Regions from separate parts of the Homo sapiens genome. Here region 1 is linked to region 2. A link means that fine-mapping ties the variant in region 2 to the expression of a gene that starts in the linked region. Tissue or cell type: lymphoblastoid cells. Region 2 holds a variant in brackets; the other region holds the start of a gene. All regions are shown on one strand. Distances are from middle to middle.

Region 1 (2,759 bases), 30 kb after region 2:
AGGCGCCCGCCACCACGCCCGGCTAATTTTTTGTATTTTTAGTAGAGACGGGGTTTCACCATGTTAGCCAGGATGGTCTCGATCTCCTGACCTTGTGATCCGCCTGCCTCGGCCTCCCAAAGTGCTGGGATTACAGGCATGAGCCACCGCACCCAGCCAGGATTCAGATTACATTTTGAGGACCTTGGAGCCACGGAGGATTTTTTTAAATTTTTAATTGAAATTTTATTGGGTGTATTACGTTCTATACAATTTTATCACCTGTGTGGTTTTCTGTATCTCAAGACACTGAATAGTTCCACCACCACAAAGATCCCTCCTCCTGCCTTTGATAACTACACCCCCTTCCTCTGACCCTTGCCCTCTACTGCCCACCAGAGTCAGGGACTGATCAGTGGGGAGGGTAAGGAGGAGGCAACGGAGAAGACCCCATATCTGCCTGGGAGAGCTCACAGGAGTCAAGGTGGACCGTGAGTTGCAGTGCCAAGTTTGGGGCTTGCCAGGTTAGCTACGGCCATGGGAATGTCCAGGTGAAAGTCTTTCGGGGCCAATGGATTTAAATATCCATGGCTTAGGAGAGAAGCCTGGGCTGGAGGTGAGATTTGGGAGGGGTTTGTCTCCTCAGGGAGTGGAGTAAGAGAGGACTGAGGAAGGAGCCGCCTTTCAGGTGACAGTCTACTTCTGCACAGGGGTCCCTTGTTTTGCAGCTCGCTGCCTCCTTGGGACTGGCAAAGCCCTGCTCTTGCTTAAGGAGCCCTCTCTGTGCAGAGGGCTCTCCCAGCATGCCCATCCCCCACCCGGAGCCTCAGAGCCAGGCACAGGAGGTCCTTCTGCACAATGGCCACGCATTAGCTGTGTCCTGTTCAGTCCCCAAGCACAGGGCTTGTTAATCCCAGCCCTACCATTCCAGGAAGGACCCCAGAGGTCACGGAATCCAAAGCGTTGAATTTACAAAGAAGAAAACTAGTCCTCGGAGAAGAGGCTTGGCCAAGGCCATAGACGTGATCTGCTGGCCGAAAGGGGGCTGTTTATTTACTGGTTCAGGATCGGTTTTCCCCCTACAGGAAAAGGGAGGTGAAACCCAGGCGAGATGGGTGCAAGTTTCTGAACACTTTCATTCGGCAGCTTTAATTGAGCGTGTATTATGTGCCAAGGAGGGCCAGGGTTTTCGGGATAGGAGGTGGACAAGGCACGGGCCCTAAGGCTGGTGGATAAGGACATCGAAGGGTTAAATTCTGGGACGGCTGCAGGGAGGAAAGGGTAGAGGAATCTCCCGAGGAAAGGCCCCCTTCCCGGCATCTCAGGCTCCGGAAACCCGGGCGCGAGGAGCCTGGGAAGGGCTGCCCCGCAGGCCTTGGCCTCCCCCGCGGAGCTCCCTCTGGCCCTGGGAGTGGCCGCTCTCGAATTACAACAAAAGAGGCCGGAGGCCGGGCCTGCTGCGGCGGCCGCCTTCGGGGAAGGGGGTGGGTCCGGGGAGGGGTTTGCCATCCTCCTCTAGTTAAAAGTAAGGGGGAAAAGAGTAAACGCGCGACTCCAGCGCGCGGCTACCTACGCTTGGTGCTTGCTTTCTCCAGCCATCGGAGACCAGAGCCGCCCCCTCTGCTCGAGAAAGGGGCTCAGCGGCGGCGGAAGCGGAGGGGGACCACCGTGGAGAGCGCGGTCCCAGCCCGGCCACTGCGGATCCCTGAAACCAAGTAAGAGCGCTTCCCGCGCCACCCCCTCCCCGAAGCGGTTCGCGAGAAAGCGGGAGCGTCCCTATGGGGTCTCCAGGCTTCGTCCTGCGCGGGGCTGCCTCTCGACAGTGCCTGGGGGTTCCCAAAGACTTCTTGCGGGGAGCGATGCGAGGACGTGCAGGCTAACGGGTCCTCCTGCCGCCCCGGGCGGCCCCGCCCAACCCCACCTCGTACGGGCCGGGCGCGGCGCGGCTGCTGGCGCGCCCGGGGAGCGAGGCGCTGGGTCCCTGGATCGTCCCGAGCGCCCGTAATCAGGCGGGACAGAGCCCGTCAAGTCTCGGTGTGTGCTGGGCGTCTTGGAGAGTGCAGCGTGGCTCCAGGGACAGCGTCTCCGGAATTCTGGCTTTGAGGAGTGGGGCACGCGGGGGACGGGTCGGGAGACAGTGACTGCCCTCGGGGCTGTGGTTTTGGGGATGTAGAGCGTGCTGGGCTGGGACGGAGTGGGGGCGGGGACCCCGGGGGCTGCGCCCGGGAGCTGTAGCGTCCACTGCTTGAACCCGGTTCAACCCCCAGCCTGCTCGAAAGGCTGTTGGGAGCGCGGGAGCGCCGTGAGTCCTGCGGGAGCAGAGGCGCTCTCGGCACGCCAGGTATGCACTCCCAAGTCGCCCTGCCTCTCCGGGGACCAGGGACCCTCTCCCGCCTTCATCACCTAGAAGCCCTGGAGTTGGAAAGAACGGGCACGAGCGAACCCACGGCTACAGCTGATCCCAATCTTGAGCCGTTGGTCCGGTGGTCTGAAGTGCCTACAACTTTTACGCAGGCGCTTTGCCCACCGCGCCCCTTCTCACCAGCCCAAATTTGGAAGCCCTCTGGGTGTGGCTGCCTGCTCGAGGTGTCCCAGGAATCAGCGCTGGAATAGAGATGATTGGGAGAACAAGCGAGGTTCCCTCCTCTCCGTGCCCGAGCTAAGACCATCAAAAAACAGCCGGAGTGCGGGGCGGAGCGGGGCGAGGGTGTGAGGAAGAGAACACCGCAGAACACGGCGAGGGAGGGGGCTGAACTACTCAATATGGTTAGGAAACCCCA
Region 2 (2,759 bases):
GGCAAGGCATTGTGTTTGCGAATCAGTAAGTATTCCCTGAGTGTTTGTGTGTCTTGCCATTTGTTGTATAAGTTAAGCTTGTGTGTTTCCTAATGGGAAGGATATGCTTGTTACAAATATAAATTTGGTAAACCATTTTTAAAGTGAGAATTTTAATAAGCCTTTACTAGTGATCTATTTTGGTGAATTTGTTTTCAGGATTATTGTGCAACAAAGTGGTCCATTTTGCGGGAACGCTTTGACCGAGGACTGTACGCCTCTCATGCTGACCTCCACAGGCTTAAGTAAGTACTAGAAGGTCAAGCCCAGGGCACTCTTAAGAACCATAATGCAGTGTTGGCCCCACTGGCTTGCCACACCCTGGCCTCAGTCCAGCTTCTTCTCACTCACTGTTCTTCCCATCTACCCTGGGCCCCTTTCAAACGGGACAAATACTTGTGCCCAGACATATTCCGTATCTTTTTTGTTTTGGTCACTTTTACTGTCTCTTACCCCTGAAATTCCCCTGTTCATACCTTTGCTTGTTCAAGTCCTGCCCAGACATCAGAGTCCAGCCAGAGGCTGTCCCTTTCCAGTCTTCCTCTGTCCCCTCAATCAGACTTCATCCCTTTCTCTGAGTCTCAAGAATTCATCCTACCTCGCCAATGCATTTATCATGTTCTGCTTTTTCTGTTGCTTTTTAAAAATCCCCTTTCATTGTAAGTCACTTAAGTGCAGACACTGTATCTTACTAATTATTGTATCTTATTACTTGCTTAGCACAGTGCTTGGCAAAAAATAAACCTCTAATAAATATTTAGAGTCATAGAATATCAGAGCTGAAGAGAACCTTCCTACCATCTCATTTTATAATAAACTGAGGTACAAAGAGGTTGGAACCTGTTCAGTATTCATTCAAGGAGTACATGGTGAAATGCCAGCTGGAAAAGAAACCTATCTCAGGGATATATGACATTATGCCGAGACCGGGTTCATGCACTGATTGATTTGACAGGTGAACTGCTCCATGTTGTGGGACCAGGGATGTGAAGCAAGTACATCAACCTTGAAACGCGCGCAGTTGGTTTGGGAGAGCCGGCCTGAGGAAGCCCCTGCCCCAAGGCTGCCCACAGAGGGAAGGATTGTGTGTGTGTGTGTGTGTGTGCCATCTTGACAGAGTGAGTCAGTCTGACTTGCCTTTGTGCTTGCCGTTTGTAGGTATCAGTGCTTCAAATCGGCCTGGATGTTTGAGGTGTTTCATAGGGGCTTTTCGTTTCCTGTCAACTATAAAAGCTTAAAGACTGCCTTGCAAGTTTACGACAAGGAGGTTCAGTGGACCCTTGGAGCCATCCTCTACAGGACCCGCTTTCTACCATTAAGGTAGGGCTGTGAATTTGGGAACGAGAATCAAAAAGATGCTTTTCTGCAGTTACAGCACCTCATGGCAGCTGTGGTCTGTGGCTGTTTGGGGCATTGCTGTTAGAGCCGGCCACGGCAGAATTGTAGGGACAGTGACGTTTGCTTTTGGTCTTGCCCCCTCCCCACAAGTGCTTCCTCCCTTCTCACCCTACCATCCCGTAATACACAGCACTCCTGTCCTACTGCCCTGTGTTTGGTTATTCTCAACTGT[CTGTT/T]CCCCAGCCCCGGCAAAAGGGTCAGTTCCGGGGTTCTTAACCTTTATGACTCAGGCCTCTTCTCCAAATACTGTTTAAATGCATGTATAAATACATAGGATTACAGAAGAAACCATCATATTGAAATAATACCAAAATATTACAGAAAACAAGTTTGTGATACTGTAATATGTGTTCTTCTCTATTAACACATTAAATAACAGGATCTGGCAGCAGAATTAGCACTTTCTGTAATTTCAGTGTAGTCAATGAGCGTCAATGATATTTTGAGGCATTGATGATACCATAATGGGACATGAAAGATCTGTGATTTTCGTTAGTAACAAAGTTGCAGGTGCTGCCAACGCTAATGATAGTTTGTTGTCTGCATTCATGGTCAAAGAAATGCTACATCTCAGTCAGCGCTTGGGTAGAACAAAGATGTGCGTTTTTCCCCATTCACGTTTGCAGATCTGCTGTCAGTTGACCTGTGCTAAGAACCTGAGTTACCTGATAGATGAGACATTTGCTCTTCCCCCCACCCCCTCCATTTAATTGAGCATTTCTCAGCAACCCTTTTAACTGGGTTAACTGTAAAAATGGTGAGTCATGGGTGTTACTGATCACAAGCATGCAGTTTGTTTACATGTTGACTTCTTTGTATCAGCGAAACCTTCACGGCTCTTCTAAATTCCTCTGATTTTGGTTGCCCAAATTATAATGACCGACTTCAGAGTATACTTTCACATGTTATCTCACTGATACTTAGAAGCCCCCTGCATTGGGCTGTTCCGTTCTCCATTTCAGAGGTAGGGTTGCAGTTCCTAAAGTGCAGCTCTGGGGCCTGGGTCCCGCCGTCCCCCTGTGCACCCTTTCCACCCCTTTCCTTGCTTACTGTCCTGTTTGTTGTTTGGTGTTCACATGGGCAGAGACATCCAGCAGGAGGCCTTCCGAGCCAGTCACACCCACTGGCGGGGCGTTTCCTTTGTCTACAACCACTACCTGTTCTCTGGCTGCTTCCTGGTGGTGCTGCTGGCCATCCTGCTGTACCTGCTGCGGCTGCGGCGCATCCACAGGCGCACTCCCCGGAGCAGCTCGGCCGCCGCCCTCTGGATGGAGGAGGGCCTTCCCGCCCAGAATGCCCCGGGGACCTTGTGATCCAGCTCA

Direction of the effects. Alleles are on the strand shown, and positions count from the first base shown. SD is a standard deviation of normalised expression in the study named.
For the expression in lymphoblastoid cells of the gene that starts at base 1,528 in region 1, allele CTGTT in region 2 goes with a lower level than allele T (moderate effect, 0.60 SD a copy in GTEx).

Evidence for each region. PIP is the estimated chance that this variant, and not a neighbour inherited with it, causes the effect.
Region 1: it holds the start of LOXL2, and the variant in region 2 is fine-mapped to the expression of LOXL2 in lymphoblastoid cells (GTEx, PIP 0.95).

What each region holds. Positions count from the first base shown.
Region 1 is chr8:23,402,889-23,405,647 of GRCh38, reverse strand. LOXL2 (lysyl oxidase like 2) reads left to right here and starts at 1,528. Exons shown (of 14, transcript NM_002318.3): 1 at 1,528-1,694.
Region 2 is chr8:23,432,917-23,435,675 of GRCh38, reverse strand. ENTPD4 (ectonucleoside triphosphate diphosphohydrolase 4) reads left to right here. Exons shown (of 13, transcript NM_004901.5): 11 at 199-284; 12 at 1,198-1,359; 13 at 2,522-2,759. The coding sequence ends at 2,750. Among named protein-coding and RNA genes, the nearest start is that of ENTPD4, 23 kb to the left of the region's middle. The variant CTGTT/T (reference allele first, on the strand shown) is at 1,610.